2 separate regions of the Homo sapiens genome follow, and region 2 is linked to region 1. The links come from fine-mapping of genetic effects on gene expression. A gene starts in region 1. The other region holds a variant in brackets. All regions are shown on one strand. Distances are from middle to middle. Region 1 holds the start of SGSH (N-sulfoglucosamine sulfohydrolase). Region 2 overlaps CARD14 (caspase recruitment domain family member 14).

Region 1 (15,872 bases):
TCTGTGCCTCACCCCACGCCCTGTCCTCGGCACGGGGTCCTCACCTGTGCGCACACCAGCTTGGCTGAGCAGCAGCGGCAGGCTCCGCACCTTGTCGAAGGAGTTGAAGTGGTGCACGTCCTGGTGCAGCCCGTACATCCCATTCTGATGCTGCCAGCAAAGGCGCATGAGGTCCGGGGCCCCCGGACAGCCAGAGCCCGCCTGCCGCACCTGTTCTCCCACGGCCCTCCCATCCCCAGGGGCCTTCTCGGGGCCCTGATTTAGACTTCGAGTGGCCAGCACCCAGAGACACTGGCTGTACCTCCCACTCCCTGCCCGATAGGCCCATGGGTCCCTCCCGTGAAAGGAGGACTTCGCCAGAAAGAAGGGGACCTGCAGGGCGTGCACCGACACGAGGGTGGCCTTGATGTTCTTTTTGCGTATCCGTACTTTTGAACTCTTCTGTTATGATCACACGTTACAGAGTGAAAAAGACAGGGTCAGGCCTTGTTTTATTACCTAGTTATTTTATATTGTAAAAGATGTGTACATTTTAAAAACTCAGACTGCCGGCCGGGCGTGGTGGCTCACGCCTGTAATCCCGGCACTTTGGGAGGCCAACGCAGGTGGATCACGAGGTCAGGAGATGGAGACCAGCCTGGCCAACATGGTGAAACCTCGTCTCTACTAAAAATACAAAAATTAGCTGGGCGTGGTGGCGGGCGCCTGTAGTCCCAGCTACTCGGGAGGCCGAGGTAGGAGAATGGCTTGAATCTGGGAGGTGGAGGTTGCAGTGAGCCGAGATCACACCACTGCACTCCAGCCTGGGCAACAGAGTGAGACTAAAAGAACAAGTGTCCTTAAACACCCATGTTCATAGCAGCTTTATTCACAACAGCCAAAGGGTAGCAGCAACCCAAGTGCCCACTGACGGATGAATATGGAGAAGCAAAATACGGGGCCCATCCATCCACTGGAATATGAGTCAGCCCTGAAGAGGAGGGAAGTTCTGACTCGTGCTACAGCATATGGTTAACCCTGAGGACATTGTGCTGAGTGAAGTAAGGACACAAAAGGGGGGCCGGGCTCGGTGGCTCACGCCTGTAATCCCAGCACTTTGGGAGGTCGAGGCGGGCAGATCACTTGAGGCCAGGAGTTCGAAACCAGCCTGACCAACATGATGAAACCCCATCTCTACTAAAAATACAAAAATTAGACAGGCGTGGTGGCGCGCACCTGTAATCCCAGCTACTCGGGAGGCTGAGGCAGGAGACTCGCTGGAACCGGGGAGGCAGAGGCTGCAGTGAGCCACGATCGCACCACAGCACTCCAGCCTGGGTGACAGAGTGAGACTCCAACTCAAAAAAAAAAAGGACTAGTCCTGTGTGATTCCACTCTTATGTGGCCCCTGGAGCAGTCAGATTCATAGAGACAGGGGATGGGGAGGGAGAATGTGGAGCTGGTGTTTCATGGGACAGAGCTTCTGTTTGGGTAGATGGAAAAGTTCTGGAGATGGATGGTGGTGATGGCTGCATAACACTGTGAATGCACTTAATGCCCCGGAACTGTGCGCTGAAAAATGGCTAAGATGGGAATGTTGATGTTTGTGCATTTTACCACAGTAAAATAGGAGCATGTGTGCCTTAACGGTGTCCGCTCCCTGCACCATGGCGTTCCTGGGACACTGTGGCCATGGCGGTTCACGCTGAGTGAGCCCACCAGGCCTCGCACTAAGTGTTTACATACAAAGCATTAGCCCCGCCAATCTCCATAACTAGAGTGGCATCTCATTACACCCACCATCTTACAGATGAGGAAACTGAGGCACAAGGAGGTAGGTGACTTGCTCAAGGCCACACACAGCAGTGCAGCCAGGGCTGGCGGGTGAGTCGGAGCCCCTAGTCTGCACTCACAGCCATAGGCTGTGCCTCCTCCTGGAGGTGGGAGGGAAAGTGGGCAACACCCCCCGGGATCCCAGGGATGGGAGACGTGGCAGAGGCCTGGGCCCCGGACGCAGCCTGTCTACTCCCTGCCCACCCCCTCCTCCCGCCCCTTGCACCTCACCTGGGGCAGGCCAGTGAGGAGGCTGGCGCGGCTGGGAGAGCAGCTGCTGACCGAGGTGAAGGCATTGCGAAAGAGGAGGCTGCGGCGGGCCAAGGCGTCCAGGTGCGGGGTGGCGATGGCGCTGTTGTTGTACGCGCCACTCTCAAAGCCTCCGTCATCCGCTGCGTGAGGTGGGAGACAGAGAGTGCACGGTCGGCTGCGGTCACGAGAAACAGCACTGGGAGTGAGGGAGGCTGGGACTGTGATGCCAGAAGGCGAGACACCCAGGTGGGCATGGTACTGGCTCAGTGTGAACACTCAGCGCGAAATGCTATCGTGACAGAGCACTCCATTACCTAGGAGGCATGACACCCGAGTGGGTACATCAGGCAAGCATGGTATCAGAGGGCATGTTAGCAGGTCTCATACTTGGTGGGTATGTTAGCAGGCAGGCATGTATCCAGAAGACCCCATACCCACTGGGTATGTTAGCAAGAAGGCATGGTACCTAGTAGGCACAATACCTGGTGGGTATATCAGCAAGCAGGCAGGGTGCCCAGGCAGGCCTGATACCCAGTGGGTATGTTGGCAGGTGAGCATGGTATGGAGGCTGGACTGATTGATAGATGGTGGGTATGTTGGCAGGTGAGCATGGTATGGAGGCTGGACTGATAGATGGTGGGTATAAGCAGGTAGGCATGGTACCCAGGCAGGCCTGATACCAGTGGGTATGTTAGCAGGTAGACTGGTATCCAGCAGGGATGATGCGTGGTTGGTATGTTAGCAGGCAGGCATGGTATCCAAGTGGGCATGATAAGCAGGCATCATACCACAATAAGCTTGATGATACCCTAAGCAGGCATGATACCCGGTGGGTATGTTGGCAGGTGGGCATGGTACACAGGCTGGACTGATAGCTGGTGGGTATAAGCAGATGGGCATGGTACCCAGGCAAGCCTGGTACCTGCATAGGCATGTTAGCAGGCAGGCATGGTACCCAAGTGGGCAAGATACTCATGCAGGCATGATGACCCAACAAGCTTGATGATACCCCAGCAGGCATGCTACCTGGGTGGGCGTGTTAGCCGGCTAGGCATTTAGGCAGACAGCGGCTGAGCGCATGGCCACAGAACTGCTGGGCAATTCTGGGCTCAGCGGAAACCGCATGGGGCAGAGGGCAGGAGAGCCTCGCCCAGGGCGCGTCTAAAGCTCTATGTGTGTGCGTCCCACCGCTGCTTCTCACTGATGCCATCTCAAAGGCCTAGTGACCTTGCAGGTTGTCTATTTCAACCCTTTCATCCTACACAAAGCAGCTGAGGCCCAGAAAGGTGAGGTGCAGTGCCCAGGGCCACACACTGGGCAGCAGGAAACAGGGACAGGCCGCTGAACTCCTACAACCACACCAAGCTTCTTCCCCCTGCTCTGGAGTAGAGGACACTGGGGGCACCACAGGAGAGGCTGGTGGGAACCCCCAGACCAACACTTTCCCCAGCTCCCTCAGAGGCAATGTGGTCCATGGATGGACAGAGGAGGCTGGGCACCTTCCAGTTGGGCTTCCATCCTCCACCCCACAGTACCCACAGGTGTGAGCACATGGCAGCCACGTAAACCTGGAGGGAGAGCGGGATGGGCTGTGCTCCGTACCCGCAGGCCAGGAAGAAAGCTGCCCTTCTCCAAACCCAGAGTGTCTCGGCACTTGGCTGTGGGCCTGCTATGGTCTGAACTGTGTCCTCCCAGAATTCATATGCTGAAGCCCTAACGTCAACATCACTGTATCTGGAGACAGGGTCCTTAATTAAGGGTAAATGAATCATAAGGATGAGATCCTGATCTGACAGGACTGTGGACTTAAAGGAAAAGAAAGAGAGGGCCGGGTGCAGTGTTTCATGCCCGTAAGCCCAGCACCCGGGAGGCCAAGGCAGGAAGATTGCTTGAGCCCAGGAGTTCGAGACCAGTCTGGGCAACACAGTGAGACCTTGTCTCTACAAAAAATACAAAAATTAGCCAGGCATGGTGATGTGCACTTGAGGTCCCAGCTACTTGGGAGGCTGAGGCAGGAGGATCGCTTGAGCCTGGGAGATTGAGGCTGCAGTGAGCTGTGATTGTGCTACTGTGCTCCAGCCTGGGTGACAGAGTGAGACCCTGTCTCACAAAAAAAAAAAAAAAAAAAAAAAAAGGAAAGAAAGGAAAAAGAAAGGAAAAGGAAGTGAGACCACCCCCATCCGCTTGTCATGTGAGGAAACAGTGAGAGGGTGACCACCTGTAAGCCGAAAGTGGACCCTCACTGGAACCCAACCAAGCTGGCACCCTGACCTTGGATTTTCAGCCCACAGAACTGTGAGAAATACATTTCTGTTTAAGCCGATCCATGGCAGTCCGTGCTAAGAAAGGCCCTAGCCCAGGGGCCGCATAGCCTGGACTCTGACAGCCTCCTGTAGGAATTCTGATCCGCAGGTGAGGGTCCATGCAGATTCTCTGCTGTGTTTCTGGGAGGCGAGGAGTTGGCAGGAGAGCTGTTTATGTTACAGTGAGCCGAACCCCCGCCCAGAGACCACAAAATTAATCAGAAAGAGGGCAACTGGCAGGGCGCCAGACCTCAGAAGGGGAAAGAATCGCAGGCCTTGGGTTTGGCCTTGTCACTTGTCATGAGCCAGAGCCTTGATTACCTAAACCGGAAGTCTTGTGAGCAGCACGGTGCTTGCTCTGGAGGAACCTGGGGTTTCTGAGAGGGACTGGGGTTGGGGGAGACGGTGGTGGGTGGGTGGTGGAGGGCTGTGCCCTTGGGATAAGGGAAAAGACAGCTGAGACACAGGCTCTGGGGTCGGAAATGAGAGCCAGGAGGGCACCCTGTCTGCAGTCTCTGGGGACCGGAGCACCAGCCCCTCCTCTGGGATCCCCTCCCAAGAGGGATTTGAGATCCGTGGACCCCTGAGCCCTGGCTGGGCAGGGTCAGAGGAGGGTGGGACAGGCGGCACGAGGTAAGTGTAGGGGTGCTGGATGCTGGGGCTCACTCCTCCAGCCTTTGCTGCCCTCTCTGGGGAGACACCCGTGAAGAGTCTGGGGGCGGCACAGAGAGGAGGACGAGAGGGAATGGCAGCGGGGGATACAAGGGCAGGGCACACTAGGGTCAGCATTGACCACGGGTGGGGAGGAGGCCAGTGGCCACTTCCCCGGGCCACCGCAGGTGGGCGTGGGGGGGCGGCGCCGGCACTCACCGAGGAGCAGCAGTGCGTTCCGGGGACGCGCCCGGCAGAGCCCCAGGACTAGCAGCAGCGCGCAGCAGGCGGGCACGGGGCAGCTCATGGCGGCGGCGGCTCGGACTCGGGATCGGGATCCGGCTCCGGCTCTCTGGTCTCCCGCTCGGCCCCGCCCCCTGCCCCGACCCCGGTCACGTGCGCGCCAGACCCCGCCCCGGCCTGTCCCCGGCGATTCCTGCGGACCCAGCTGCGGCGACGCCAGGAGACCCCAAGCTGCATCGCCGAGTGGGTGAGTCCGTGGCCCGCGAGGGCGGCGAGCGGGGACCAGGGGCAGGGGGAGCGGACAGTGGCCGGGGTCGCCGGGGGCAGCCGACGCGGGGGCCAGCGCGGAGTCCTGAAGTGCGGGGGCCTCCCGTGGGGACCACTCCCCCGCCGCGTCCCTACCCGGGTCCCCGCGGCCCTCGGCCTTGCTCGGGGCCAAGGGACCGCGGACGGTCAGGTGGCGCAGGGTCTCCTCCGGAGACCCCAGGATCCGGAGCCAGCGGCCTTGTGGGCGGGGCCGGGGGCCGGGGAGTGGATTTTGCCCGGAGCGGAGCGGCCGGGGGCGTGGGGGGCTGGGGGTGAGGGTGGCGGCTCTGCGCGCGGGCGCCGGGGCCCTGGAAGATGCTGCGCACCTGAATTAACCGGGCGCCTCTGATGTCCTCCCAGAAGCAACTAGAACTCCAGGGCTGTGAAAGCCACAGGTGGGGGCTGAGCGAGGCGTGGCCTCAGGAGCGGAGGACCCCCCCACTCTCCCTCGAGCGCCGCAGTCCACCGTAGCGGGTGGAGCCCGCCTTGGTGCGCAGTTGGAAAACCTCGGAGCCCCGCTGGATCTCCTGGCTGCCACCCGCACCCCCCGCCAGCCTACGGTGCGCCCGCGGGCCCAGCTTCTCTCTGCGCTGCTCCCCGTTAAATTCCCTGGGGAGACGGAAAAAAAGGCAAAGGAAGTCGGTTCTCCAGGGGCCAGAAGTGTTGAGCCTAATTAGTCTTCAGACTTCTCAATGAGGAATCGCTTATCAGTTTCTTATCTGGGAGAGTTGAGGATGGAGGGACAGAAGGCACCCAGGATTTGCACGGGGGGGATTCAGGGAGAGAGGGTGATGAGGGACGGGGTGGGCCTTCCAGTCTTGGCCCAGTCCCCATCTTGCACACATTGTTGGCTTCCTCTTAGAGCCGTTCGCCCCCCTGGGGAGGGGAGACCCATAGTGACCTCTCCTGACACCCGCCGACCCTGACCAGTGTTGCCGGGTTCTTCAAAGGCCACGCTCTGACTGCTGGTCTGTGTCACCTGCACCCCCCAGCCCCACCGTAGAGATGCCTTCTTCGGTGACGGCGCTGGGTCAGGCCAGGTCCTCTGGCCCCGGGATGGCCCCGAGCGCCTGCTGCTGCTCCCCTGCGGCCCTGCAGAGGAGGCTGCCCATCCTGGCGTGGCTGCCCAGCTACTCCCTGCAGTGGCTGAAGATGGATTTCGTCGCCGGCCTCTCAGTTGGCCTCACTGCCATTCCCCAGGCGCTGGCCTATGCTGAAGTGGCTGGACTCCCGCCCCAGGTGAGGCGTCTGACCCTGCTGCCAGCCATATCTCAGAAACAGTGCAGAATACACAGTATCAATCCCAGACACCATCAGCGATTCCAGGTTTCCAGCCCCTGGGCCCCAAGGAACCTTTGGTTTACAGTGTGTGACGCAGATTGTCTCTGGGCCGACCCAGGCTCCTATGCCTGTTTGGCACACACAGACACTGAGCTGGTTATGGAGGGGCCAGCGAGATGACTCATGGAGGCCTCAGGAGTTCAAGACCAGCCCGACCAAAATGGTGAAACCCCGTCTCCACTAAAAATACAAAAATTAGGCTGGGTGCGGTGGCTCAAGCCTGTAATCCCAGCACTTTGGGAGGCCGAGGCAGGCGGATCGCAAGGTCAGGAGATGGAGACCATCCTGGCTAACAGGGTGAAACCCCGTCTCTACTAAAAATACAAAAAATTAGCCAGGTGTGGTGGCGGGTGCCTGTAGTCCCAGCTACCTGGGAGGCTGAGGCAGGAGAATGGCGTGAACCCGGGAGGCGGAGCTTGCAGTGAGCCGAGACTGTGCCACTGCCCTCCAGCCTGGGCGACAGAGCGAGACTCCATCTCAAAAAAAAAAAAAAAGAATGCTTCCTCAGACTTGGACACAGCACACGGGCCTGCACCGACCCCTCTGCCTGGCTGTCTGCACCCTGAGGCCCCAGTTGAGTGCTGCTAAAAAAGTGGCCTCCTGATCACTGCAGGTCCACCCACAGGGCAGGGCGGTGCACCTTTAACCTGGGCCTGGACACAGCTGACACCCACACATCCCGAGCTTGGACACGCACACTAGGGAGCTGGTGGATGGGCCTCGGCCTCCTGAGTGCTCACCACCCTCTCTCCCCACAGTATGGCCTCTACTCTGCCTTCATGGGCTGCTTCGTGTATTTCTTCCTGGGCACCTCCCGGGATGTGACTCTGGGCCCCACCGCCATTATGTCCCTCCTGGTCTCCTTCTACACCTTCCATGAGCCCGCCTACGCTGTGCTGCTGGCCTTCCTGTCCGGCTGCATCCAGCTGGCCATGGGGGTCCTGCGTTTGGGTGAGGCTCTACCTTCTTGCCAAGGGGATGCCCTCGACCTCAGCATTTGCTTGTTTGCATTTCAAGTCTATCCCCGTGTGCGTGTGTGTGCGTGTTGGGGTGTGGGTATGTATGTGTGTGTGTGTAGGTGGGTGGGTGGTGGAGGGGGTGGGGCACTTGGCTCTTAGTCTACTCTTTTCTGCTTAGAGGCCAGGACACTTGGAGAAGTGCCTGTGGCCTCAGACCCCAGTCTCCCTTTTCTGCTCTCCAAAAACAGCCAAACAGGGTGTGTTACCCCCAGTCCTTAGCTGCGGTATCTGCTCCCCAATCCCACCCATTGCCACCTTCCCCAGCTCACATCTCCCCTCATCCTCTGGGACTGGGTGGAGCCGGGACCAGCTCGATGTCCCCTCTTGGCTGGCCAGGGTTCCTGCTGGACTTCATTTCCTACCCCGTCATTAAAGGCTTCACCTCTGCTGCTGCCGTCACCATCGGCTTTGGACAGATCAAGGTAGGCACGGCGCCCACCCAGGGCACTGCTCTTTGGCCACTGCTCGTTGGCACAGGGATGGCGGGAGCAGGACTGAGGCCAGTCCTGATCCCTGTGGCCAGTGGACGTCTTGCTGTTTCAGATTGTCTTCCATGGGTCAAGAAGCACGCGGTGCTCTCATGGGTCCCCTGTTAATAAAATGACCCTCCTGGGAGGGATGTCACGTGATGGTTGGATTTCACAGCGGGTAACTTGGGGGCCGGTAATTCCATCCCCCTGCTCTTGCCCGAGTTTCCGTGCCAGTGTGCTTGGCTGGCTCTGTGACGTGGCTCTGTTCTCCCTGCACTGGGCACACCCAGCAGGCCCCACCAGTCATGAGCATGCTGCTAGAATTTCTATAGGCAAATTATTTCCCCATGCCAATTTAGTTAGATGGTTTTGTTTTGTGCTTTTTTTTCTGGTTTCTGTTTAATATTTTTTAAATGCCATGCCTTTTATATTTTCTTTTAAAACATTTATAATAAGTACTAAAATCAGTCATCAGCTGAGGGTGTAATTTATTCTGTTTTTGCTGGGTTGTAAGTTCCTCGAGGGTAGGAACTGTCCTTCTCCCAGCCATGGCCGCCCAGCATTGGGCTGGTGCAGTAGGGGGGTGCTCAGTGGGGTGTGTGTGGAGTGAAGTGAGCCCAATTCCACAGATGGGACCATGCGGCCCTCATGGCAGACTAGGGTCACATGCTGCCTCCTGACCCTGTGTCACTGCAGGTCATCTTCCCCAAGCCAGGCCCTGTTCCAGGCTGGCCTGAGACAGTCTTCCCTGATGGAGGTACCATGAGAAGACCAAGGACAGGAGAGTGTGTGTGAGAGTGTGTATGAGTGTGTGTGAGTGTGTGAATGAGTGAGTGTGTGAGAGTGTGAGTGGGTTTGAGGGAGTGTGTGAGTGTGTGCGTGTGTGAGTGAGTGCGTGTGTGAGTGAGTGTGCGTGTGTGTGTGAGAGAGTGTGAGTGTGTATGAGTGAGAGTGTGAGAGTGGGTGTGGGTGTGAGGGAGTGTGAGTGCGCGCGCGCGTGTGTGAGTGTATGAGTGTGAGAGTGAGTGTGAGTGAGTGAGAGTGGGTGTGGGTGTGAGAGTGTGAGTGTGAGAGTGTGAGTGTGTGAGTGTGAGAATAAAGTAGACACTTTTTGCACTCTTGCTACGTGCGAGGCACTGGGCAGGACACTCTCCATGTGTAATTCTCAACACACCCCGGGAGGTAGATTTATCATTATTTCCATTTGAGAGAGGAGGGACCAACTTAGGTGTGGGTGAGCGTGATTTGTACGTTATCTACACGCATCTCTCAGGGTTAGCTTGGCAAATGCTGTTTCAGGGCATGGTTGGTTCTTTAATCTGGAAACATCATTTTTGGTGTCAAGAATGTTCTTTTGTAGGATCCCAGTGAGAGTGGAGAGCGGAGAGTGGAGAGTGGAAGGCATCCCTTGTTCATGCCTTCATACTTGGCAACCCTAGCCCCGCCCAGGGACTCTGCAGCCATCTGGGGGGAGGGGCGTCCTCCTGACAGGCCCAGGACAGAAGACCCTACCCCAACAGTCCCAGAGTCCGCCCCCCAGGATGTCCTAACCCCACCCACCCTGTGCGCAGCAGTTTTAGGGCAGGGTCCTTGAGCCTGTGGCCATGGGATCCAGGGCCTCAACTTTCCCCTCTGACTCCTGTTGGGTCTCAGGCGATGTAAAGAACTAAAGTGCAAGCTGTGCCTGCACTGTGGATCCCAGCTACGTGGGAGGCCGAGGTGGGAGGATCACTGGAGCCCAGGAGTTCGAATCCAGCCTGGGCCACAGAGCAAGCAAGACCCCCACCCCCCAACCCCCCGCCGCTCTCTAAAGAAAAAAAAACTAAACTAAAACACAGGATAGAGTGCCTTCTCCTGCCCAGGACCTCAGAGCTGGTATCGTGGTGGGAGGCTCCTACTTTGCCGAGGATTCCCCAAGCTGGTTTCTTGAAGCCCCTCAGAGCCCTCCACATCTGCACACTACGAAGAGATTTTTCCTCCCGCAGCAGCGGAGCTGGGGGGTGGCGGGGCACCTAGTGAGGGAGACATTCTCAAGCCAATGGCAGCAAGGGTCTACACTGCAGGGGGCCTGGCTGCTGAGTGGCCTGGAGCCAATGGGGGTGGGGCCAGGCAGCCCATGGCCCCTGGCCATCAAGCTGTAGAACCTGTCTGCCTGCTGTGGGGTCACCTACATTGTTTTTTATGAGAAAAGTAATTTAGAGAAAAACATATCACTGACCCAGTAATTGTGAAGTACTGTCTCCCACGAGGGTAGCTTTGATCTCCTGCCCTAGGGGGCGTTGGGAGTGGGCAGGTGGACCCCTGAGCCCCTAAGATGGGCCCCGGGAATAAGGGTTGGGAGCAGGGCCGGGGGACACTGTCTCAGCCCTAGGGGAGGTGGGCGGGGAGCTGGGGACAGATGGCCTTGGTTTGGGAGCATAGCCTCTGATCAGCATCTCTGTGTTTGGACAGAACCTGCTGGGACTACAGAACATCCCCAGGCCGTTCTTCCTGCAGGTGTACCACACCTTCCTCAGGATTGCAGAGACCAGGTACCCCGGGCTTTGTTCCTCCCTCCTATAAGGAAGCTCCTTCTTCCACACCTCCTCTCCCGGCCCCCACCTCAGTTTCCCCACCCCTGGTGACTGCTCAAACAGGGGTCCCCAGAGCAGCCCCATCAGCAGCACCTGCAAGCTGGCAAGAAATGAGACTCTCAGTCCTTTGCAGACCTGCCCTATCAGAGCCACAGTTTTAACAGGAGGCCGGTGGTCTGCGCGCAGGGGAGAGTTCAAGAAGCTCTGCTCTGGGGAGCTGGAGCAGGGCAATGTTCCTCTCTCCACAAAGCTTTCTTGGGGGACAGGAATGGGGAGAGTCTGTGTAAAGAAAAAGAAGGCAGTGTGTCTCCCCCAGGCTGTGATTTGTTAAGGAGGAGAACACAGGGCGTGGGGAGCTAACCCAGACAGAACGCAGGTGGTGCAGGGACGGCAGGTGGAGCTGTGATGAGAGATGAGGCGACCCAAGCACTTCCCTCAGGTGGTTTAAAGAGCCTCTGATGGCCGGACACTGTGGCTCACACCTGTAATCCCAGCACTTTGGGAAGCCCAGGTGGGCAGATCATCTTAGGTCAGGAGTTCAAGACCAGCCTGGTCAACATGGTGAAACTCCGTCTCTACTAAAAATACAAAAATTAGTCGGGTGTGATGGTGCGTGCCTGTAGTCCCAGCTGTTCAGGAGGCTGAGGCAGGAGGATTGCTTGAACCTGTGAGGCGGAGGTTGCAGTGAGCTGAGATCACGCCACTGCACTCCAGCCCGGGTGATAGAGTGAGACTCCATCTCCGCCCTGCCCTGCCCCCCCGAAAAGAAAAGCCTCTGATGAGGGGTACCTCCCTGCCAGACCATCCAGCGGGAAGGCAGGATGCCTCTCTACCTCTCTGGCTGGAAGGGGCTGGAGGAGGAAATGATCTAGGGGAGCTATAGAGATGGCTGCCCAGTGCTGTGGCCTGGAGGGAGTGGGGGCGATCCTGGACCATCTTCCCCTCCCCTCTGATCTGCTGCCGAAGCTTCCCAGCAGCTGAACCCAGCTGGAAGCCAGTGGGTTCTTTGCTCTTCAGAGGCACCAGTGGGCAGGGGTCGGCCAGATGGGGGAGCAGTGATTACGGAGCCTGACCAGTCAGAGAGCGTCACGGGCTGTCATGTAAAAGGGGCCTTACTGACCGTTTAGTCCTAAGCCTTCTAGAATGTCTAGAGCAGGGTGTCCAGTCTTTTGTCTTCCCTGGGCCACACAGGAAGAATTGTCTTAAAATACACTAATGATAGCTGATGAGCTACAAAAAAATCATTGAAAGAACTCATAATGTTTTAAGAAAGTTTACAAATTTGTGTTGGGCCACATTCAAAGCCATCCCAGGCTGCACATGGCCCACAGGCTGTGGGTTTGGCAGACTTGTTCTAGAGCCACCTGCAGAGAGCATCAGCTGCTCAGGCTGGTCCCCATTCCCTGTGGTCACTCACCAGATCCTGTTCCATAGACTTGAGTCCCAGAGAGCTACGGGAGTGAAAATGTGAGCACGTCGCTCTGCCATCATCATGACCCGGGCCTCTCCACTGCCTGTCCTGCCCAAGCCTGTGTACTTACTGAATTTTGAATTGAGTTTTGAAGTAGAACAGGGATGCATATTGCTTAGGAGAAAACATCTCAGCCTAGTCTGTGTTTGGTCTTGCAGAGTAGCTTGCTAAAGTTCCTGAGCTTTAGTTAAGTGTCTGTGAAATGGTGAAAATATTGAAAATGCTTTATTTCCTTGTGATACTCACTGTGGTCTGGGACCAGCAGCCTGGGCATTGGGCCTCCCTGGGAGCTTCTTAGTGCCTCTCAGCTTAAGCAGCAGCAGGATGCTTGAGTCAGCAGTAGGCCTGGGCCGAGCTGGGTGGTGACCAGTCCTCTGCCTGTCCACAGGGTAGGTGACGCCGTCCTGGGGCTGGTCTGCATGCTGCTGCTGCTGGTGCTGAAGCTGATGCGGGACCACGTGCCTCCCGTCCACCCCGAGATGCCCCCTGGTGTGCGGCTCAGCCGTGGGCTGGTCTGGGCTGCCACGACAGGTGAGGGGCCTCTGGCTGACATCTTATGCAACCTTGGCTGCAGGTTGGGGTCACTTGGGGAGTCCTAGTCCCACCCTAGGGATTCTCACGTCATTGGTCTGGGTGTCACTTGAGCATTGGGACATTTAAAACACCACACCAAACTCTGGGACATGTACTTTTTATTTAATTAATTAATTAATTATTTTTTGAGACAGAGTTTCGCTCTGTCGCCCAGGCTGGAGTACAGTGGTGTGATATTGGCTCACTGCAACCTCCGCCTCCCAGGTTCATGTGATTCTCCTGCCTCAGCCTCCTGAGTAGCTGGGATTACAGGCGCATGCCACCACGCTCGACTGATTTTTGTATTTATAGTAGAGACGGGGTTTCACCATGTTGACCATACTGGTCTCAAACTCCTGACCTCGAGTGATCTGCCTGCCTCGGCCTCCCGAAGTGCTGGGATTACAGGCATGAGCCACCGCCCCGACCCAAACTCTAGAACATTTAAAACTCTGAGCCAAACTCGGTGGGTTCTGATGCAGGGTCAGAGCTGAGAACTGATGCATGGCCAGCTGTGGCCGTTCTCAACCTGAAGCAGTTTTGCCCCCTGGTGACACGTGGCAATGTTGGGAAACATTTTTGGTGGATACCACCGGGCGAGGCAGTTGCTGGCAACTAGCGAGGAGGGGCCAGGAATGCCACTAAGCCCCTGACGGCGCACAGCCTTCCACAGCAAACAGTGATCCGGCCCAAAATGTCGGCGGTGCCGAGGTGGAGAAACACAGTCTACTGGCAGGTCCTGGGGAGACAGAACAAATTCCGGGGAGACCAACAGGCTCTGTTTGAATTGTGCAGCTTTATGGGGGTACAACTTCAGCTTCAGGCGCGGAGGCTGCAGGCTGAGCCACAACCAACCAGGGGTCCTTTGAGAAAGGGGTGGTGAGGGCTGCGTCGTGGAGGAGCAGGGCTGTCAGCAGGTGAAGGACCACCCTGGGGGAGGTGGAAGCCTCTTCTCAGTGCATCCGGGATGGGCATGGGTCCCCTGGCTGAGCACCGGGCAGGGATGCCCAGAGAAGAAGGCACACCCAGGAAAGTCAGGAAGCATAGGTGACTCCAAACCTTCTCAGAGCCGAGGGGACAGATTAAGCTCAGAATAACCCGAGCTTGGTCTTGCTGTTTGGGGGCTGCAAAATCCAACAGCCACAGAAGAGAGAGGGTGGCTGGATTTAGCTCTTGAGTCACTTCTGCCTGCCCAGGCTGGTCTGTTCTCTGTGGTCTCTCCCTGGATCCTGTTCAGCAGACTTGAGGCCGTGGTGAACACTGAGAGTCTGGTGGGGTGCAGAGGATGCTGGGTTTAGAGTGGAGATGTCCAGCTTCCAGTCCCAGCCTGGCCTGGGTTTAGACTTGCAAAGTAGCTTCCAAAGTTCCTGAGCTTTAGTTCAGTTGTCCGTGAAATAGTGAAAATGCTTTGTTATCTTTGTTATCTTTTGTTTTTTGGTTTTTTTTGGAGACGGTGTCTCACTCTGTTGCCCAGGCTGGAGTGCACTGGCGTGATCTTGGCTCACTGCAACCTGCCTCCTGGTTTCAAGCAATTATCCCGCCTCAGCCTCGCGAGTAGCTGGGATTACAGGCGTGCACCACCACACCTGGCTAATTTTTGTATTTTGAGTAGAGATGGGGTTTCACCATGTTGGCCAGGCTGGTCTCGAACTCCTGACCTCAAGTGATCCGCCCGCCTCAGCCTCCCAAAGTGCTGAGATTATAGGCGTGAGCCACTGCGCCTGGCCTATGCCTTGTTATCTTAAACCTTGAGACTCAGAGTGTGGCCTGGGACCAGCAGCCTGGGCACTGGGCATCTCCTGGGAGCTTACTGGAAAGGCAGGATCTCAGGCCCCACCCCAGATCTCCGAATCAGGATCTGTATTCTTCAGGGCACGCCCAGGGGATTCATGGGGTCAGCTTAGAAGTCAAAGTTTGGAAGCCGGGCATGGTGGCTCACGCCTGTAATCCCAGCACTTTGGGAGGCCGAGGGAGGCAGATCACCTGAGGTCAGGAGTTTGAAACCAGCTTGGCCAAACCCCGTCTCTACTAAAAATACAAAAATTAGCTGGGTGTGGTGGTGTGTGCCTGTGATCCCAGCTACTTGGGAGGCTGAGGCAGGAGAATCACTTGAACCCGGGAGGCGGAGGTTATAGTGAGCCAAGACTGCACCACTGCACTCCAGCCTGGCAACAGAGCGAGACTCCTTCTCAAAAAAAAAAAAAAAAAAAGTCAAAGTTTGGGAAATGCTTAGAGACCCCATGTTTTTCAGAGACTTGTTTTGTATGACTTTATGAGATGATCAGGCAGGTGTGGCCACAAGGGGAGACAGCGAAAGGCTCAGGAAGAAAACCAGTTTATTATACTCACAGGTCCTAGAGACAGGAGGCACAGCATGCCACGTAGGGCCATGTCAGAGGACACCAGGGTGGCCAGGAGGAGAAGCCAAAGCTGTGGTTTAGGCCACAGCCTTTATCGAGATTTTCTTGATAAAGGCAAGGTGAAGAAAGGCGACCAGCTTAGGACTTGCAGTTGGAGGAATTTTGGTGGGTTTCAGGCTTAAGGCAGAAAAATCTTGCCTCCTGGGGTGCAGGCCAGGCTGGTGGAGGAAGGATGGCTCCAGAGGGGTTAGCTGGCATATCAGAGACACACTTGGGGCTGCTTTTTTCTCTAGTACTTGCCTAACCCTGAAGGCAGTGTCTCCGCAGCCAGAAAGGTCTTTTAAGATGTCTAGACATCGTAATGTACAGAAACTTCAGAAACATTTACAGTGTAGGGCTGCTGACTCCTTTCTCCCCAGTGTGTGTAGCATTGTCTTAGGAAACTACTTAAAAAGCTTTTGATTCTTATAACAGCTTTGAGAATGAGTTTATTATTTT
Region 2 (8,983 bases), 23 kb before region 1:
GGCTGCGCTCTGTCTGCTGGTGTCCTTGTGTTTTTCCCTAGAGCCAGGGGAGTTGTGTCTGATCCACGCCCTGCTCAGCACCCAGCCCCCTGCTCTGATCTGTAACGCTTGGGCTTCCCAGTGGTTTCAGAAGGCAGCAGGCAGGGTGGCTTAGTGGTGCCAGGCTGAGGCGAGGCACAGCGTGACATCTACCTGCGGGGAGCATCTCTCCTCTCAGGCGCTGGCCCTGAGGCCTCGCGCTTCTCCTGTAGCTCATTTCTGTTTGTGATTGGACCGGCCCTCTCTGCTTCCCAAGTCCATGGGCCCGTCATGGGTGGGTGCCTTAATCCTTTCCACCTCGGCGCGACCGGCTCCCAGCCTTGGGCCTTGCACACAGTAGGTGCTTTGCTCCCCATTTGGAATTCACCCCATGGCCACCAGGGGGCGCAAGTGCCCTGCGCTGCCCCTGTGCCTTCTGTGGGTCGCAGAATCAGAAATCTTCATCTTTGGGGACTCATACACGTTTTTATTTATAATCGTGATAAATCGAGAGAGACCACCCAAGGCATATCTAAATTAGATGTGAGATGAGAAGAGGGGCTTATTCCTCTTTATTTTTCCTCTGTGAGGATTCTGCGTAATGCCCTGGTTGCATATACTTTTAGTGGAATTGACCTCAAATACATCCAGAGTACACAGCTCATTTCATTGGCTTTGAATGTGATCCCAATGGGTTTTTGCCTGTGAGCCAGGCCTAGGGAACTCTCAGGTCTCTGCTGGCCCTGGCTCTGCTGTGTGGTTCACAGAGTGAGACTTGCAGCCGTCGACCCTGGCAGGCTGCTCCCTGGTTCGGGGGCTCACAGGCTGTACAGTAAAATGCTAGAGCTTGGGAGACCCTGGGGAGCCTCTAGTCCTAGGATTGACAACTCAGAGACCTGCCACCACCAGCTGGGAAGCAGAGGAGTCTGGGGTAAGGAGCAGGCAGCTGCTGGCCAGTGCCAGTGATTGCGGCCACACAGAAATGCAGGCCTGTGTGGAAATGCAGGCCAGTGTGGAAATGCAGGCCAGTGTGGAAATGCCGTGTAGTACAGTAGTGCAGGTCTGGGTAGAAATGCAGGTCCATGTTTGGGAGGTCAAGGTGGGCGGATCATGAGCTCAAGAGATCGAGACCATCTTGGCCAACATGGTGAAACCTCGTCTCTACTAAAAATACAAAAGTCAGCTGGGCATGGTGGCACACACCTGTAGTCCCAGTTAGTCAGGAGGCTGAGGCAGGAGAATCACTTGAACCTGGGAGGTGGAGGTTGCAGTGAGCCAAGATCGCACCACTGCACTCCAGCCTGGCGACAGAGCGAGACTCAGTCTCAACAACAATAACAACAACAACAAAAGAAATACAGATCCATGTAGAAAGGCAGGCCAGGGCCGGGTGTGGTGGCTCATGCCTGTAATCCCAGCACTTTGGGAGGCCAAAGTGGGTGGATCATGAGGTCAGGAGTTCGAGACCAGCCTGGTCAACATGGTGAACTCCCGTATCTACTAAAAATACAAAAATTATCTGGGCGTGGTGGCACATGCCTCTAGTCCCAGCTACTCAGGAGGCTGAGGCAGAAGAATTGCTTGAACCCGGGAGGCGGAGGTTGCAGTGAGCTGAGATCACGGCACTGTACTCCAGCCTGGGCGACAGAGTGAGACTCTGTCTCAAAAAAAAAAAAAAGAAAGAAAGAAAGAAAGAAAGACAGGCCAGTGCAGTGCAGGCCCACGCAGACATGGAGGTCAATGCAGTAATGCAGGCCAGTCCTGAAATGCAGGTCCATGCAGAAATACAGGTCAGTGCGGAAATGCAGCCCCAGGGTTACAGCAGATATTTTTTCAAGTGAAGCCAGAAATCCAGATTTTAGGTGAAACCTCCCTGTCTTTCAAATGTTGGCAACTCATTCAAATATCACAAAATAGCATGTGGTGGTCAGACCCTCCCAGTTGCAGCTCCTCACTAGTTACAGTGATTTTAGGAAAGATGAAATCAAGGTCCCAAGCATTGAGGAAGGGGTGGAGGAAGAGAAAGTTCAGCCTCAGCACAAAGGATGGAACAGGCAGTGGGGCCTGAGGCTGAGGGAGAAGGGGCTGAGGTTACAGGAGGTTACAGGACGCCCCATCAGCAGTGGGGTGACCAAGATCTGTGAAGAAGGGGCTGAGGTTACAGGAGGTTACAGGACGCCCCATCAGCAGTGGGGTGACCAAGATCTGTGAGCTCTTGGCTTCCTCCCAGACCTTCCGCAGCTGGAAAGCAGCCTGCAGCCAGTCTCCCCTGGAAGGCTTGATGTCTCGGAGAGGTAAGCAGCAGGTGGGAATCCTCCGAGGCTGGCTGGGGAACCAGGGCCAGGGAGTGGCAGAGCAGAGGGTGAGTGTCCTATTACCAATGGGAGGCAACAGCCTTTCCAAGCACATGGGGCCATGGAGGGGGAGGAGAATTCCAGAACACTGGGGCCAGAGGGAAGCAATGGGGAGGTGGCCTTGCCGGCTCTCCTGCTCTGGGCAGTGCACAAGCCGGTCGTCTCCCGGCCTGCAGCGGCGTCCTCATGCGGCGGAGGCCAGCCCGCAGGATCCTGAGCCAGGTCACCATGCTGGCGTTCCAGGGGGATGCATTGCTGGAGCAGATCAGCGTCATCGGCGGGAACCTCACGGGCATCTTCATCCACCGGGTCACCCCGGGCTCGGCGGCGGACCAGATGGCCTTGCGCCCGGGCACCCAGATTGTGATGGTGAGCCGTGCGAGGCCCCTCCTGTCCCCCGGGCTCCTCATGGGGACAGTGGCAGCGGGTGGGGTGACCCAGGCAGACTTCACCTCCCCCAGACGATGCAGATCCACTCTGGGCTGGGCCTCTGCTCTTTCCTGGGCTGACGTAAAGCGTTCTGCTCATTTATAGATGAGAGTCGTGCCGTGCAGAACCCAGCATGTCACCCGTGGTGCTGCTGCCATGCGGCGCTTCTGACCAGGGGTCTTTGCATGAGGCCCCTTGACAGGGCTGCTCTGGGTGGTCACTTTGGGTGTGTACAGTAAAATACACGTGACATAAAATTCACTATTTTAACCACTGGGGCATTTCTTTTCTTTCTTTTTTTTTGTTTGTTGTTTTGAAACAGGGTCTCACTCTGTCACCCAGGCTAGAGTGCTGCGGTGCGATCACAGCTCACTGCAGCCTCGACCTCCCCAGGCTCGATTGATCCTCCCACCTCAGCCTCTTAAGTAGCTGGGACCAGACCACAAGCATGCGCTACCGTGCCCGGCTAATTTGGGGACATTTTCTAAAACTTTTTTTTGTTGTTGTTACGAAACGCACAAAACTGCTGAGAAGATAAATGGACACAAATATACAACCTGGCCAGGTGTGGTGGCTCACGCCTGTAATCCCAGCAGAAGGCTGAGGCAGGCAGATCACTTGAGGTCAGAAGTTCAAGACCAGCCTGGCCAACACGGCGAAACCCCGTCTCTACTAAAAATGCAAAAATTAGCCAGGTGTGGTGGTGGGCGCCTGCATGGTCAGGGGGTGACTTTGATGTGGCCTAAAAGCAGAATTATTAAACTTTAGGAAAAAAAAAAACTTCTGGGCACAGTGGTACATGCCTGTAGTCCTAGCTACTCAGATGCCTGAGCCCAGGAGATTGAGGCTGCAATGAGCTAAGATTGCACCACTGCACTCGAGCCTGGGTGACAGAGCAAAGCCTTGTCTCAAAAAAAAAAAAAAAAAAAAGAAAAGAAAAAAAAAGGCCAGGCACGGTGGCTTATGCCTGTAATCCCAGCACTTTGGGAGGCTGGAGCAGGCAGATCACCTGAGGTTAGGAGTTTGAGACCAGCCTGGACAACATGGTGAAACCCCGTTTCTACTAAAAATACAAAAAAAAAAAAAAAATAGCTGGTATCTATAATCCCAGCTACTCAGGAGGCTGAGGCAGGAGAATCACTTGAACCTGGGAGGCGGAGGTTGCAGTGAGCTGAGATGGTGCCACTGCACTCCAGCCTGGGTGACAGAGTGAGACTCGGTCTCAAAAAAGAAAAAAAGAAAAGAAAAAGGAAAGCACAGTGCTTTCTTAATATGAAAAAAATTTTAAACCAAGAAATGTGCAAGATGGGCTTCACCTCATTCCAGAGGCTCACCCTGCGGCCTCCAGGAGGGGACTGGGGATGGGGGCTCTGGGGTGGGAAGGTGAGCACAGAGGCGGGGAGAGGATGCGTCTGAACCCCTCAGGCAGGAGTGTTCCATGCACCCCTCACTGCCCCCTTGGAACAGGCTGTCCAAATGCTGAGCTCCCCTAGGGCTCCAATGATAGCACATGGAGCACCTAATTCAAGCGTCCTTCACGTCCTCCACATGACCCGGGAAGCCTTTCTTTACATGTC[AT/A]TTTTTTTTTTTTTTTTTTTTTTTTGAGACAGAGTCTTGCTCTGTCGCCCAGGCTGGAGTGCAGTGGCTCGATCTTGGCCCACTGCAACCTCCACCCCCTGGGTTCAAGCGATTCTCTTGCCTCAGCCTCCCATGTAGCTGGGATTACAGGTGCCCGCCACCACACCCGGCTAACTTTTGTATTTTTAGTAGAGACAGGGCTTCACCATGTTGGCCAGGCTGATCTCGAACTCCTGACCTCAAGTGATCCACCCACCTCAGCCTCCTAAAGTGCTGGGATTACAGGCATCAGCCACCATGCCCAGCCCTTCTTTACATTTCTAGTTGTCCTCTTAAGCAGCAGTCCCCAACCTTTTTGGCACCAGAGACCGGCTTCATGGAAGACAACTTTTCCACAGACCGGGTTGTGGGGGATGGTTTTGGGATGATTCAAGCACGTTACATTGATTGTACACTTTATTTCTATTATTATTACACTGTAATATGTAATGAAAGAATCATACACTGAACCATAATTCAGAATCAGTGGGAGCCCTGAGCTTGTTTTCCTGCAACTAGACGGTCCCATCTGGGGGTGATGGGAGACGGTAACAGATCATCAGGAATTAGATTCTCATAAGGAGCGTGAAACCTAGATCCCTCACTTGCACAGTTCACGATAGGGCTCATGCTCCTCTGAGAATCTACTGCTGTGCTGAGCTGACAGGAGGTGGAGCTGAGGCCGTAATGCTCACTTGCCCACCACGCCCCTCCTGCTGTGTGACCCGGGTCCTGATGGACCATGGACCAGTACCAGTATGTGGCCCAGGGGTTGGGGAACCCTGCTCTTAAGGTTCCCAATTATCAGCTCTGAGGTAGTTCAAGCAACAGAGCCCCTTGACGATGTTCAGGGAGATAGTCCCGATATCCTAAGGGGGCCAATTAGATTCTAATGGTGTTAAAACACATCTTAATTTTTATTGTAAAAATATCTACTCTCCTAAGCTTAGAACAATATTGAGAAGAAATGAAGTGGATGGTGGAAGCCCTGGGGGGTGGGCCTTCACAGTGGGGAAGGCTGTGGGTGGAGAGCCAGGGCATCGGGTAGGTGAAGGCCAGGGATGCCACTCAGCATCCTGTAGGGCCCGGTATAGCCCGCAGCAGCACAGAATGATCCCAAGGCTAAGAAACCTCTATCTAGAATGCTCTTGAATGTTCTAGAACCGAGGTTCTTTCTTTTCTTTTCTTTTCTTTTTCAAGACAGGAAAGTGCTTATCACAAAGAACCCCCGATCTCGACTGGGGAAGGGTTGGCAGTTGACTCTCTGGCCAGCACTATGTGTAGCACGCATCACTAGAGGTGTGAAGGCCCCACAGAGGCTCTGGTGTGTGGCTTTGTTTTGACCAAGGCGTGCAGGCAGTGGTCCTACGGCAGGGCTGGCCCGCGCCTCGCCTCAGTGCCCTCAGCGCCTTCTGTCTTCTGGCTGGATTCAGAGTCCCGGGGGAAAGAGACTGACCTTCTCGACTTGCCCTCAGGTTGATTACGAAGCCTCAGAGCCCTTGTTCAAGGCAGTCCTGGAGGACACGACCCTGGAGGAGGCCGTGGGGCTTCTCAGGAGGGTGGACGGCTTCTGCTGCCTGTCTGTGAAGGTCAACACGGACGGTACACATACCACTCCTCTCGTGTGCACAGCTGCCTGGCCAGACTCCATGACCCTTAAGTCCCTGGTGGTTCTTCTGCACGCCCAGCAGCCAGGGACCCCCAGAGCCAAGAGAGGATCAGCCAGGCTGTGCCCCAGGTCCCCAGGAGGCCCCCAAGCCAGCTGGAAACCTCCCACCCACTGACTCCAGTGCCAGAGCAGCTTCTGAGACTGGGAGGGTCCTTCCTTCTCTCCTACTTTAATTTTCTGCAACCTTCCTCGCAGAGGCTCGTATCTGTGGCTCATCTGTGGCTCATGTCCCCTTTTATCAGGTTATAAGAGGCTACTCCAGGACCTGGAGGCCAAAGTGGCGACCTCGGGGGACTCATTCTACATCCGGGTCAACCTGGCCATGGAGGGCAGGGCCAAAGGGGAGCTGCAGGTGCATTGCAACGAGGTCCTGCACGTCACCGACACCATGTTCCAGGGCTGCGGCTGCTGGCATGCCCACCGCGTGAACTCTTACACCATGAAGGATACTGCCGCGCACGGCACCATCCCCAACTACTCCAGGTGAGCAGCTGCCTCGAGCTCGGTGCGTCCCCAGAGAGGCCCACAGGGAAATGGCACCCAGCCTGCCTCGGCTTCCTCCTCCTGCCCAGCAATAGAGGGTGGGCGTGGTGAGACCCCCCTAAGGAGGGAAGCCTGCCAAGATCACTGCTGAAGATGTTGTTTCTTTGTGATGGATGCTTTATATATTGCAAATGAAATGTTCATTCTAGAACATTCTAGATCTGGGTTTCTTAGCTCTGGGTTTCTTAGCTTTGGTACCATGGACGTTTGGGGCTGGATCCCCGTCTGTGGTGGGGCCGTCCTGGGCACTGCAGGATATAGAGCAGCATCCCTGGCCGCCCTACCCAGGATGCCGGGACTACTCCCATGCCCCAGCTGTGACAACCAGAAATGTCTCTATAGGTTGCCAAGGGTCCCCTGGTTCTCCTAGGACTGTCTTGGTCTTAGCACTGAAAGCCCCACTTGCAGGGAAGCCCCTCGGTCCTGGGCAAGCAGGGACAGCTGGTCACCCTCCCTGGGGAGTGACATTGCCCCCTGCCTTGCTCCATTGAAAACCACTGCTCTAGGCCGAGCATGGTGGCTCACACCTGTAATCCAAACACTTTGGGAGGCCGAGGCGGGTGGATCATCTGAGGTCAGGAGTTCGAGACCAGCCTGGGTAACCTGGTGAAACCCTGTCTCTATTAAAAATACAAAAAACTTAGCTGGGCGTGGTGGCAGGTGCCTGTAATCCCAGCTACTCAGGAGGCTGAGGCAGGAGAATCACTTGAACCCCGGAGGCAGAGGTTGCAGTGAGCCGGGATTGAGCCATTGCACTCCAGCCTGGGCGACAGAGTGAGACTCTGTCTCAAAAAAAAAAAAAAAGAAAAGGAAACCATTGTTCTAGATCAGCCTATGGGAGGCTCCAAGTTTCAAGTGCACGGAACGCACAGTGCTAGAAAGCAGGAGTGTTGAGCTCAGCACCCCCATCACTCATTGCAAACTCAAGTCCCCTGGGGATCGGAGCCAGCAGGTCCAGGGAGAGGCCTGGCACTCTGCATTTCTAACAGCTCTCTCGGTGACTCCAGGCTGCAGGCCAGGGACCCACCATGAATATTGAGGTCCTGGAGTGGGGCCCTGTACGCTGGCTGCTCAACAGCACCCCCTGGGTCCCGCCCCAGGACAAGTAAATCAGCATCTCCAGGGGTGGGCCGAGGCCCTGGAGTCTTTTGAAAGCTCTGGAGACTGGCATGGCCGCCAGGATGGAGCGCTCCAGCCTGCAGCAAAGGGATGTGTGGAGCTCTAGGTGGAGGCCCTTCTCTCCCACCCGGCCATCTCCCCCACTCTCCCCTGCTCGGCTCTCCCCTGCCCTGCTCACCTGGCAGGAGGCAGCTGGGTCAGGGCCTCTGCTGGTCTCTGCAGGGCTCAGCAGCAGCTCATAGCCCTCATCCAGGACATGACTCAGCAGTGCACCGTGACCCGCAAGGTGAGGCTCCAGGGAGGGGCCTGGACCCCACTGGGGTGGGCTGGAAGAGGGGCTCGGTGCTGGCAGGGTGGCAGGAGGCACTGTGTGGAGAGTGGGCTGCTGATTGGAGGGTAACCCCACCTGTCTCTCCTCTGCACCCCTTCAAACCAGGGCAGGGTCTGCAGCCCCTGCCCAGCCTGCAGGCTCTTGCACAAGTGCAGACACACCTCAGGCTGTTCTCAGAGCATCTGCGCCTCTGCATCACTCCCAGGTCGCCCTAGTGCCAATCATCTCCCCTGAATTCCCATTCCTGTTGATGGCTTCAACAGCTCCTCCTCATCCTTTCTCTGTCCCTCCTTTAGCCATCTTCTGGGGGACCACAGAAGCTGGTCCGCATCGTCAGTATGGACAAAGCCAAGGCCAGCCCTCTGCGTTTGTCCTTTGACAGGGGCCAGTTGGACCCCAGCAGGATGGAGGGTGAGGCCTGGTGAGCTGGCACAGGGGCCACTGGCTCCAAGTGGGTGAGGGGCTTTGGGAGCTGCTGCTAGTTGGTCAGCTGGGGCAGGGGGATGCCACTCATTTAGGCCAGGATCTGGTCTTCAAGAATCATGGGGCTGGGTGTGGTGGCGCACACCTGTAATCCCAGATACTCGGGAGGCTGAGGCAGGAGAATCGCCTGAACCCGGGAGGCAGAGGTGGCAGTGAGCCGAGATGGTGCCATTGCACTCCAGCCTGGGCAATAAGAGCAAAACTCTGTCTCAGGAAAAAAAAAAAATTTCAGGAGAGGAGTACAGGACAGAGGGAGGGCTAGGACCCTGTGCCCTGGAGGATGGCTGAGGAGAAGGGTGCCACTCTCCCAGATCCTTTGGAAGGAAGAAAACCCTGGCTTCCGCCATCCTCCCTTGGGCCTATAGGAAACAGGATTAAGTTGCAGGCTGCAAAGCAGTCCCTGGAGAGCCACAGAGCTGT

The links. PIP is the estimated chance that this variant, and not a neighbour inherited with it, causes the effect.
Region 2: its variant is fine-mapped to the expression of SGSH in whole blood (INTERVAL, PIP above 0.99). The same link has a PIP of 0.9 or more in monocytes.

The regions. Positions count from the first base shown.
Region 1 is chr17:80,214,989-80,230,860 of GRCh38, forward strand. It overlaps SGSH (N-sulfoglucosamine sulfohydrolase), which reads right to left and starts at 5,345. Exons shown (of 8, transcript NM_000199.5): 1 at 5,238-5,345; 2 at 2,044-2,204; 3 at 45-150. The coding sequence starts at 5,325. It overlaps SLC26A11 (solute carrier family 26 member 11), which reads left to right and starts at 5,439. Exons shown (of 18, transcript NM_001166347.2): 1 at 5,439-5,508; 2 at 5,928-6,127; 3 at 6,560-6,806; 4 at 7,667-7,859; 5 at 8,264-8,349; 6 at 10,849-10,928; 7 at 12,830-12,972. The coding sequence starts at 6,573. RefSeq lists enhancers at 4,387-4,506, 7,164-8,001, 8,002-8,839, 11,318-11,819 and silencers at 5,307-5,576, 5,597-5,666.
Region 2 is chr17:80,195,851-80,204,833 of GRCh38, forward strand. It overlaps CARD14 (caspase recruitment domain family member 14), which reads left to right. Exons shown (of 24, transcript NM_001366385.1): 15 at 2,249-2,312; 16 at 2,549-2,741; 17 at 5,894-6,020; 18 at 6,330-6,570; 19 at 7,972-8,035; 20 at 8,377-8,491. It also overlaps a transcript of SGSH not described here. Among named protein-coding and RNA genes, the nearest start is that of SGSH, 20 kb to the right of the region's middle. RefSeq lists an enhancer at 8,736-8,983. The variant AT/A (reference allele first, on the strand shown) is at 4,379.